Homo sapiens: one gene and its partners. The protein of the gene in region 3 purifies or fractionates together with the protein of the main gene of each other region. This does not show direct contact. Each region holds a gene or a part of one and is shown on either strand. Other genes may lie near its edges.

Region 1 (3,651 bases), on a different chromosome or scaffold from region 3:
CCTTGAGGAGCAAGTGAAACAGTGTGCTGAGTGAATGCTTTTCCAAAGCATTGAGTTGGCCGTCTTAGGAAGGTACTATGGGGGAGCTGAAAACAGAGAACCTTCTGGGTGTTGTGAAGGGAGAAAAGTTCAAGATGCTGGTTTTGCCAAAAGCTCAAGCCTGCTCATGATGGCTCAGTGGTGACTGCAGGGTGGAGGAGAGGCATGTGACTGTCCCAGCTGACCTCCACACGCTGAAAGCCTCATGGTCACGTGCAGCCCACCTTACAACGTTGTATCTGGGCCACGGGTGGTGGTGAGGACTGTGGATATATTTAGGGCAATGTGAGATCATTGTCAACATTCCCTTTAAGGTTGCTTTAACCTTAAAGCAGCCAGCTTGATGCTTGCTGACTTGGGGCACACATCTTAACCTCTTGATGCCTCAGTTTCCCCGTCTGTTAAATGGTGACATGCTGGCACCTCCCTCCTAGGGTTTCTGTGAGGCTTAAAGGAAGTACCGGGTTTAGAGTCCAGTTAGTGCCACAGATACTGTTCCTGGTGCTGTTTTTGTGGTGTGTCTGTGTAGGGTTACATTGTTGCCTTCCTGTGGCTGCTCTTCCTGGTGGGCGGAACCTGGAACTTCTAGAACAGATCATGGATGTTTCTCTGCTGGATACCCCTTCAGCCTCACCCTGTGGGAGTTGTGGCGGGGCCCAGGAGAGTTTGCTCAAGAGGGTGTGCAGGTGGGTGGCAGAGCTGGAGCAAGGCACTAGTCTTAACAGACAGGAGTCTGAGGCTGGCAGAAGTGGGGGCCTTGGTCCAAGGTGCGGGGCTAATCTGGCCAGAGCTGAGCCTGGCAGGGCCTTGGTAAGACCCTGTGGCCCTTTTGTCTTGGTGAAGCACCTTCCTGCCTGGGTTTCCATTTGCCTGTAAGTTTGTTGTGGACAGCGTGATCTCCATAGACGTACACTGTGCCTACTTTACAGATGGAGAAACCAAGGCCCAGAGAGGAAGTGACTTGCTCAGAGTCATGGAATAGGAAAGTGGCAGGGTCCCCATGCCCTGATTCCTAGGCCAGCGTTCCTGCTGCCCCACTGAGGTTTTTGGGAATCACAGGCTCTGTGTGTCCCCCTCAGTCCCCCAGGGGCTGTTGAACAGTTCTCAAGTGGTGTCGGATTACTGAAGATGCCTCTGCCCACTGCCCTCCCAGGTCCCAGGGTCACGGGTCACGTTCTTTTCTTCCTCGGGCAGATCCTGGCCTTGGCTTTGCCTGGCACCTGTGATCCAGCTCTCCTCTGACTCTCCTGGGTCTGCTGGACTGGAAGGGTATTTGTGTAGCCCCTCTTGGGCCCTCATTACTCATTGACAGACAGTGCTGGTGGAGAGAAGGGCCCCAGTGGTGACGCACTGGGCCTGATAATCAGAAACCTTGGTGGCATTTGCTGAGCATTTTCCATGTGTCCCTCTCCTCGCTGGGACTCTAGGACTGAAACCCAGGCCACATCCTCACAGATGTCCTGGCATCTCCAAGGCAACCCTGAAAGGAAAGTATGTTGATGAATTAAGCAACTGTTTGCTTAATTCTCCATGCCATTCTTGAATTTAAGCCCCACTGCTGATCATTGGGAGCAGGAGTTAGCATGCCCATTGACAGACAAGCAAACTGAGGCAAAGAGGTTAGATAGCCAGGCATGGTGGCATATGCCTGTAATCTCAGCTACTCAGGAGGCCGGAGTAGGAGGATCACTTGAACCCAGGAGTTTGAGACCAGTCTGGGCAACATAGCAAGACCCTGTCTCTCTAAAAAACAAGATGAATAATACATTTTTAAAAAGAGATTCGATAAATTATGCAGGATCACAGAGCTAATAAATGGTGACACCATGGCCTGCAAGCCTTCCCCCAGCTCCTGGCTACCTTTCGCTTCTCTGGCATTGGTCTTCTCGGAATTCCTCCCAGGCAGGTGGATGGGAAAAGAAGTGAAGATACAGGCTGGCAGCTGGTGCTGTGACCTGGAGCCCTGTTTTTGGTGCTAAGCTGGGTTTTAGCTGAAGGAGACCTGCTGGAGGGGTTTCTTCTGTGCTTCTTGGGGAGCAAAGATGGCCTTGGAGATGGAGACACGGTTTGTCAGTCCCAAGCCACTCCAAAGGTGGGGCTGGTGGGCTAGGAGTCAGCCCTGGTTCCCCCGCCATGCTGTGTGTGGCCCTGCCTTGCCACCCCACCTGCTGGAGGACCTCTTTGATGCTTTCTAGTGGGTCCCAACATTCTGTGATTAGGACTTTGCATGAGGCAGAGGGAGGGCAGGAGCTGGAGTCCAGCAAGGACCTCAAGCCCAGGGACAGGCTCCACCTGCCACACTTGCTAAGCCGTGAGGGCCTCAGGTGCCCGGGAGGAGGGAGCAGGAGTGGAAGCACCAGCTCGAGCCGCCAAACCAGGTCACGTATCACCTGCCATTTCCTGCTGGCAGAAGGAGATCACAGACACCAGAAGACAGCAGCTTCTGCCAGAACTGGGTCCTTCCATGATTCTCAGGTGGTGACTTTGAATCCCAGAAAAAGTGTTTTGGGGAGAGTGGAGTGAAGGAAGAGTGTGAACATTGGATCTGACTCCACTCCAGCCCCTGTGCTGCAGCCAGCAGGGTGAGCTCAGGACAGCTGGCAGCCGCTTGGGCCCAGCCCCCTCCTCCGTGAATGAAGGTGGTGGGGAGTGCACGTGTGCGTGTGAGTGCGTGTGAGTATAAATGACTGTGGATGTGAGAGTCCATGAAAGTGAGAATGTATCAGTGTGTAAGAAAGTGTGAGTATGTGAGAATGAGTGTGTTTGTGAGAATGTATGTATGTGTGAGTATAAGTGTGTGAATGTGAGAATGTCTGAGTGTGAGAATGAAAGTTTGCAAGTGTGTCAGTGTGAGGGAATGTGTGAGTGCATTTGAGAGTGTGTGTGTGTGTGTGTGCGTGTGTGCACGCATGCACTAGATTAAATAAGAATGCATCCAACTGACATTTTCTGGATACTGTTACCTACTAGGAATTACTAAAATCAGCTATTCCAGAGGAGGGTGGATGTCGCACCAGGGGACATTTGGCAACGTTTGCAGATTCTTTTGCTGGTCGCAGCGTGGGGTGTATGCTGTGGGCATGTGGTGGGCAGAGGCCAGGGATGCTGCTGAGCCTCCTCCCGTGCTCAGGGCAGCCCCTAAGGCAGAGGCTGCTTGTGGGGCCCAAATGTCAGCAGTGCTGAGCTGAGGATCTCTGTCCAGGAGGCACAGACGCTGTCCTGGATGCTGTCCAGACAGCATCTGCTCTGCCCTCCAGGGGGACAGACAGACAGTGGACACAGCCCAGATGCAGCCTGATGAGTGAGCCCAAGGGAGTGCCTGTCCCCTCGGGACTGTGAGCTCCGTGGGGGCAGGAACTGGGTCTGTTTGCTCATGATCCCCAGATGAGTCCCATAGCCAGTCTCATCACCATAGCTGGTGTTATTTTTGTTCTGAGCTCTGTGTTGGGCACATAGAACCTAGTGGGTAGAAACCTCTGAATAAATCCTGAGTTTTCCATCCTGCTTCCGTGAACTCAGATGTTCTTTGAGGGCCAGCCTGGTGGCGTGGGGGCTGGGAGTGGGCAGATTGTAGGGAGCCAAGTCCTGGGGTGGAGTGGGGTTCAGGCCCCT
Region 2 (3,651 bases), on a different chromosome or scaffold from region 3:
TTTTACCTGTCGTTGTTTTGCTCCAAAATATTTCATACATATAAATATATATCTATATATGTACGTGTATACATATATGTATTTAAATTTTTTGTAGAGATGGGGTCTCACTAAGTTGCCCAGCTGGTCTCAAACTCCTGGCCTCAAGCAGTCCTCCCCACTTGGCCTCCCAAAGCGCTGGGATTATAGGCATGAGCCACTGTGCCCTGCTCATCACATTATATTTAATAGTCATGTCTTCATGGGCAACTCCTCTCTCTCTCTGTCTCTGTCTCTCTCTCTCTCTCTGTTTCTGTCTGTGTCTCTGTCTCTTGTCTTTGAGACAGTGTCTTCCCGTCACCCAGACTGGTGTGCAGCGGTGTGATCACAGGTCACTGCAGCCTCGACCTCCTGGGCTCAAGTGAGCCTTTCACCTCAGCCTCCCAAGTAGCTGTGACTATAGGTGTATGCCACCATACCTAGCTATTAAGCAACTCTTGATTATAAATTTTCTTGTTTTTGATGACAATTTTGGGGGGTACTGATCAGGTATTTTGTGCAATGTCCCCCAGTTGAGATTTTTCTTATGTGTTTTCTCATGATTAGTCTAGGGTTATAGGTTTGGGAGAGAAAGACCAGAGAAGTAATGTGCCATTTTCATTATGTCATATCTGAAGTATTTACTATCAGTGTGGCTTATCCCTGTTGATGGGATACCTTTCATCACCTGCCTGAAATAATATTTTTAGCTTTTCTCCACTGTAAAGTTGCTCTTTCCTGAACTTTTCATTCTGTACTCCTTGGAAGGAATATGCATAGCCCACAACTAAGGAGAGGGTGGCTATACCTCCTTGAAGCCAGGGTATCTATATAAATTATTTTGAATTCTTCTGCATGGATTGATCTATTCTTCCCCTTTATTTGTTTATTCAATCATTTGTTAAACATTTTTACTGATACAAAAACTAATAACTTGATTAGAATCTCCAGGTTTATCAAAAGTGAAGAATTGGAAGCTTCCTGACTTGTAATAGAAGCTCTTCAAGATGTGTCAAATGACTGTTGATTATGTTTGTTACTCATTCCTTTGGGTACCTTGTTCCATCCAATTTATTTAGAAAGAGTTGAGAAAATAGATATATTAAAGATTTCAGCATATCTTACCAATATATTTTTTAAGACAAAAAATGTTACTTTCTTTCTAAATTCAAATAAATGTGTTTTTACACCTCACCTTGACAACCATCATCCCTCTGAATGTTTTTTTCTCATATTTCTTTTTTTTTTTTTTTTTTTAAGACAGGATCTTGCTCTGTCGCCCAGGCTGGAATGAAGCGGCGCGGTCACGGCTCAGCACAGCCTCAACCTCCCGGGCTTGAGCAATCCTTCCACTTTAGTCTCTTGGGTAGCTGGGACCACAGGCATGCATCACGGTGTCTGCTCAAGATTTTGTATTTTTTTTGTAGAGAGATGGGGTTTTGCTTTGTTTCCCAGGCCAGTCTCAAACTACTGGGCTCAAGCAATCCACTTGGCCTCCCAGAATGCTCAGATTATAGGTGTGCCCCAAAGCACCTGGACTAATTTTTAAGTTTTTTGTAAAGATGGGGTCTCACCATGTTGCCCAGGCTGGTCTGAAACCCATGGGCTCAAGTGATGCCCCTGCCTCAGCCTCCCAAAGTGTTGGGATTACAGGTGCTCACACTACACCCGCCTTCTGAATCTCTTATCTATACAAGAATAATACCTACCTCAGTAGGTTGTTGATAGAATTTAAGTGAATAATGCATGTAAACCTACTAGAATGGTGGATATTACCTGGCTGGCTTGGGTTGCAGCTATTATTTTCAAGGAATTTTTTGGGTCTAATGTGAAGCAGTCATTTGCTATCTATTAGAAGAGAAACACATTTCTTAGTTCCTCATATTTATTTCATTTTGCTACAGGGAGACATAATTGCTAGATGCCTGTATCGTAACCAGTTCAAGTAGTACATAATTTATCTTGGGTTCTAAATACATGAAAAGAACTAAAATAATTGTTTTGAGCTGTTTTTGAGATATTCTGTAATTGAGAATACGCTTTCTTTTTTTGAGGGGAAAAGTGTCCTACGTAGCAAATTATGTATACATGAATTATCTCGATAGACTCAATTTTAAATTAGTATTAAAAATTCTGAGTTGTAGGCCGGGCGCAGTGGCTCACGCCTGTAATCCCAGCACTTTGGGAGGCCAAGGTGGGCAGATCACCTGAGGTCGGGAGTTCAAGACTAGCCTGACCAACATGAAGAAACCCTGTCTCTACTAAAAATACAAAATTAGCTGGGCATGGTGGCACCTGCCTGTAATCCCAGCTACTCGGGAGGCTGAGGCAGGAGAATTGCTTGAACCTGGGAGGCGGAGGTTGCGGTGAGCCAGGATCGTGCCACTGCACTCCAGCCTGGGCAACAAGAGTGAAACGCTGTCTCAAAAAAAAAAAAAGTCTGAGTTTTATGTATTCTATATTACTCAAGAGTATGTTTGAGGGTGCTACGTCTTCAGAAGTAATTGTAGCACATTATTTTGACATTATAATTAGACAATGTGTATAAAAGTTTTTAAAAAATATTTTGGATGATTTGTTGAAAAAATTGCATCCAAAAAAATCCCCAGTTGTACTTTAATAATGATTCTGGTGCATGGATTTTCAGGACGAGTAATAACCCTAGATTAGAGGAAGTGGTAGCTATAATACTGGTGATTCTTGGTTTTGCTGGTTGAACGTTGAATCAAATGCTTACACCCTCTCCCTATTTGAGAAAATAAGCTTCCCCTTTCCTCAAATACAAAGCCCCAAACAAGATTTTCCTCATTGCATTTTTATGCTGCTTGGCTGGATAATGTATTGCCACCACCCATGGGAATTCAGGCTTTTTATCCTTTACTTCTCTTGCATTTACACGCAAATGATGTCATTTGCCTTATCTCAGCTTAAAGTATTATGAACATTTTTTCTTTTAAAATAGGCCTACTTCTCATGTAATCCAGTCTTTTGGAGGCAGAGGATTCCTTTTATACTTATCTGCCCATCTGAAACTGCCTTTGTTACTTTGGGTACTAGCATCATTTTGTTTCCTCACACTTGAGTCCCCAGGCCACCTGAGCCACAATTTAGGGACATTCCCCATACTCAAATCAAGATTGTTTTCCCTGCTTTTATGCTGCTTTGTTTAGAAGCTTCCCAACTACAACTAGTTATGTGGAGTTACACCTAACATCTTCACACAGCTCTACAAGGTATTTGGGTTGGAAATTGTTTACCTTCTTAGACTTTTTATCACTTAGTTCTATGTAATCATTGGGTAGTCCTTCAACATTTTGATCTTATTGGTGTTTTCGGGGGCTGTGGGATGTTTTGTACACTTTTTGGAACCTCACCTGTCTGGAATACCTGGTGGTGCTCAGAACTCTGAGCGGAAGTCAGGAAAGCACTACCTAATGAGCAGATGTGGAATACTTTCGCTTATCCCTTTTGTTTCTGTGTTCACTTGGTTGTGAGACAAGGGAGGTTTTAAAGTAGTAAACTGTTATATTTTCTAACAGGTCATTTATGGCACTGAAATATTAAGAGGGAAGATACAAGATGTAGTGGAAATGGGCAACTATTTTCCTTCTTGTACCTCTCTGCTGCTAAATT
Region 3 (3,651 bases):
AACTCTTTTAGGCCAGTGTGGCCAGAATATAATAGCAGTAGGGGTATAAGTGGGAGGTAGGGAGAAGTTGGCAAGGGTTACCTCGTGAAGGAATTTGATTCTAAGAGTGGTAAGAAGTCACTGAAGGATCTTAAACTAGAGATTCAATTTATACTTTAAAAAGATCATTTTGGATTTTTTGTTGAGTATATTATAGTGCAGGAGTAGAACTTACAAGACCAGCTGCAGGCTGCCACTGCAATGGACTGAGATGGGCCAGAAATCGTGATATCTTGTATAGGGCAGGAACAGTACAAATGGAGAAATATAGATGACTTTGAGATGTATTTCATAGGTAGAGTGAATAGGTTAATAGGATCTGCTATGGTGAATTGGAAGGAAGAGCAAGAACCAGGGTTAAAGGGAAAGGTAAAATTAGGATGACAGATTTCTGGCTTGAGCAGTTGGGTGGTGCCATGAGTTAGGGAAGACTGGAGGAGGATAGGTTTGTGATGGTGAAATCAAGAGTTCTCTTTTAGCTACACATATCCAAGTACTAGCTCAATGTCTGGCCTGGAGAAGATAATCAGCTCTTTTGCCCACCACCAAATCTAGCTGCACATGATTTCATTTCATTTCATAATGATGTAATTATTTCAGTCATTGGAAATGGATGCAGTAAGGTCACTGAAGTCAAAAAGTTAACATAAAGTTTGGCAGGTAGCCACTAGACCAGTTTGTTTGGCATAGTATTTGGGGTGACAAAGTTGGTGCAATGTATCATAAAGTGGGGAAGGACCCTTGGGGCACTAGGATTTGTTTCTTACTTTCTTTTTTTTTTTTTTTGAGACGGAGTCTCTGTTGCCCAGGCTGGAGCGCAATGGCGCAATCTTGGCTCACTGCAACCTCTGCCTCCTGGGTTCAAGCAATTCTCCTGCCTCAGCCTCCCAAGTAGCTGGGATTATAGGCACCCGCCACCATGCCTGGCTAATATTTTTAGTAGAGACGGAGTTTCACCATGTTGGTCAGGCTCGTCTTGAACTCATGACTTTAAGCAATCCACCTGCCTCGGCCTCCCAAAGTGCTGGGATTACAGGCGTGAGCCACTATGCCCAGCTAGATCTCATTTTAAAATATGAAAGACCTTTAGATGTTCATTTATATTTGTTTCTGTTCTAGGCTCTGTACAAAATGAGCTAAGTAGCTAAGGTATGTGCATTCCAGGTCATCTGTCTTAGATAATCATACAGAAAGGAAATCATAGACTTTACAGTATATATTAAATAACTACCAGTTGACTTGCTAATGAAAGGGAAAGTTTGTATGAATTTAAAACTCTAGACCAGCACTGTTTAACAGAACTCTCTGTAATAATAGGAATGTTCTATACCTGGGATGTCCAGTGTGGTAACTGCCGCCACGTGTATCTGTTGAATGCTTGAAATGTGGCTAACGTCACTACGGAACTGAATTTTTTATTTTTTTATTTTTTTGAGACGGAGTCTTGCTCTGTCACCCAGGCTGGAGTGCAGTGGTGCAATCTTGGCTCATGGTAACCTCCGCCTCCCGGATTCAAGCAATTCTCCTGCTGCAGTCTCCCAAGTAGCTGGGACTATAGGTGCACGCTGCCACACCCAGCTAATTTTTTGTGTTTAGTAGAGACGAGGTTTCACCATGTTGCCCAGGCTGGTTGCAAACTCCTGAGCTCAGGCAATCCGCATGCCTCTGCCTCCCAGAGTGCTGGGATTACCGGCATGAGCCACCATGTCCGGCCTTTTTTTTTTTTTTTGAGACAGAGTCTCGCTCTGTTGCCCAGGCTGGGGTGCAGTGGTGTGATCTCGGCTCACTGCAACCTCCGTCTCCCGGGTTCACGCCATTCTCCTGCCTCAGCCTCCTGAGTAGCTGGGACTACAGGCACGTGCCACCACACCCTAATTTTTGTTTTTTTTAAGTAGAGATGGGGTTTTACCATGTTGGCCAAGCTGGTCTCGAACTCGTGACCTAAGGTGATCCACCCGCCTTGGCCTCCCAAAATGTTGGGTTTACAGGCGCGAGCCACTACGCCCAGCCTGAATATTTAATTCTATTTAAATTTTTTTTTTTTGGGCCGAGGTCTCTGTCACCCAGACTGAAGTACAGTGGTGCAATTTTGGCTCACTGCAACGTCCGCCTCCCAGGCTCAGTTGATCTCCCACCTCAGCCTCCCATGTAGCTGGGACCACAAGCTAATTTCTGTATTTTCAGTAGAGACGGGGTTTCACCATGTTGCCCACACTGTTGAACTTGTGGGCTCAAGTGTTCTGCCCACCTTGGCCTCCCAAAGTGCTGGGATTACAAGCCTGAGCCCTTGTGAGCCCTTGTGCCCAGTAATTTTTTTTTTTTTTTTTTTTTTGAGATGGAGTCTCGCTCTGTCTCCCAGTCTGGAGTGCAGTGGCGCAATCTCGGCTCACTGCAAGCTCCGCCTCCTGGGTTCACACCGTTCTCCTTCCTCAGTGTCCTGAGTAGCTGGGACTACAGATGCCTGCTACCATGGCTGGCTAAATTTTTGTATTTTTAGTAGAGACGGGGTTTCTCCATGTTAGCCAGGATAGTCTCGATCTGACCTCGTGATCCACCTGCCTCAATTTAAGTAGTCGTGTGTGGCTTATACCTACTGTATTGAACAGTATCTAGGCAATCAACTTGTTAGCCACTTTTCTCCATTTGTACTGTTCTTGTCCCTAAACGAGCTCTCATGATTTCTGGCCCATCTCAGTCAACTGCAGTGGCTGCCTAGCTGGTCTTCTAAATTCCACTCCTGAGCTGTAGCCTACTAAACAAAAATTGAAAGTGATCTTTTAAAAATATTAGCTTGAGCCAAATCAACTTGCTTATGGAATATATTGTCCTTTTTTTTGAGACTGGGTCTTGCCGTGTCACCCAGACTGGAGTGCAGTGGCATGATCAGAGCTGACTGTAGCCTCAACCTCCTGGGCTCAAGCAAGCCATCCTCCCACTTCAGTTTCTGGGACTGCAGGCGCATACCACCATGCCTGGCTAATTTTTGTGTTTGTTTTAGAGACGGGGTTTTGCCATATTGCCAAACTGGTCTTGAACTTCTGGGCTTAAACAATCCTCCTTCAGCCTTCCAAAGTACTGGGATTACAAGTATGAATCACTGTGCCTGGCTATATTTGTCATTTATTTATTTATTTTTTGAGACCAGCTCACTCCTGGGCTTAAGTGATCCTCCTGCTTCAGCCTCCCAAGTGCTGGGATTACAGGTGTGAATCACTGTGTCTGGCTGTATTTGTCATTTATTTATTTATTTTTGAGACCAGGTCTTGCTCTGTCACCCAGGCTGGAGTGCAGTGATGCAATCATGGCTCACTGCAGCCTTGACTTCCCGGGTTCCAGCAGTCCTCCCACCTTAGCCTCCTTAGTAGCTGGGATCACAGGTGTGTGCCACATGCCCAGCTAATTTTTGTATTTTTGGTAGAGACAGGGTTTCCTCATGTTGCCCAGGCTGGTCTTGAACTCCTGAGTTCAAGCAATCCACCTGCCTCGGCTTCCCAAAGTGGTGGTATTACAGGTGTGAGCCAGTGCACCTGGCCCATATTTATCTTAAAAAAAAAATAGATGTTTATCATTTTTTATATAGACTCATTGAAAAAATGACTTTGTGTTCTTCCA

What was found.
Region 1: the proteins of KANSL3 (region 3) and NDRG1 purify together in Homo sapiens (co-immunoprecipitation; one large-scale study listed by IntAct). This does not show direct contact.
Region 2: the proteins of KANSL3 (region 3) and UBE2R2 purify together in Homo sapiens (co-immunoprecipitation; one large-scale study listed by IntAct). This does not show direct contact.

Annotation. Positions count from the first base shown.
Region 1 is NC_000008.11:133,287,230-133,290,880, reverse strand, and holds part of NDRG1 (protein NDRG1), read left to right. Parts: intron 1-3,651. UniProt on the Homo sapiens protein: Stress-responsive protein involved in hormone responses, cell growth, and differentiation. Acts as a tumor suppressor in many cell types. Necessary but not sufficient for p53/TP53-mediated caspase activation and apoptosis.
Region 2 is NC_000009.12:33,900,657-33,904,307, forward strand, and holds part of UBE2R2 (ubiquitin-conjugating enzyme E2 R2), read left to right. Parts: intron 1-3,651. UniProt on the Homo sapiens protein: E2 ubiquitin-conjugating enzyme that accepts ubiquitin from an E1 ubiquitin-activating protein, and catalyzes its covalent attachment to other proteins by an E3 ubiquitin-protein ligase complex.
Region 3 is NC_000002.12:96,631,686-96,635,336, reverse strand, and holds part of KANSL3 (KAT8 regulatory NSL complex subunit 3), read left to right. Parts: intron 1-3,651. UniProt on the Homo sapiens protein: Non-catalytic component of the NSL histone acetyltransferase complex, a multiprotein complex that mediates histone H4 acetylation at 'Lys-5'- and 'Lys-8' (H4K5ac and H4K8ac) at transcription start sites and promotes transcription initiation.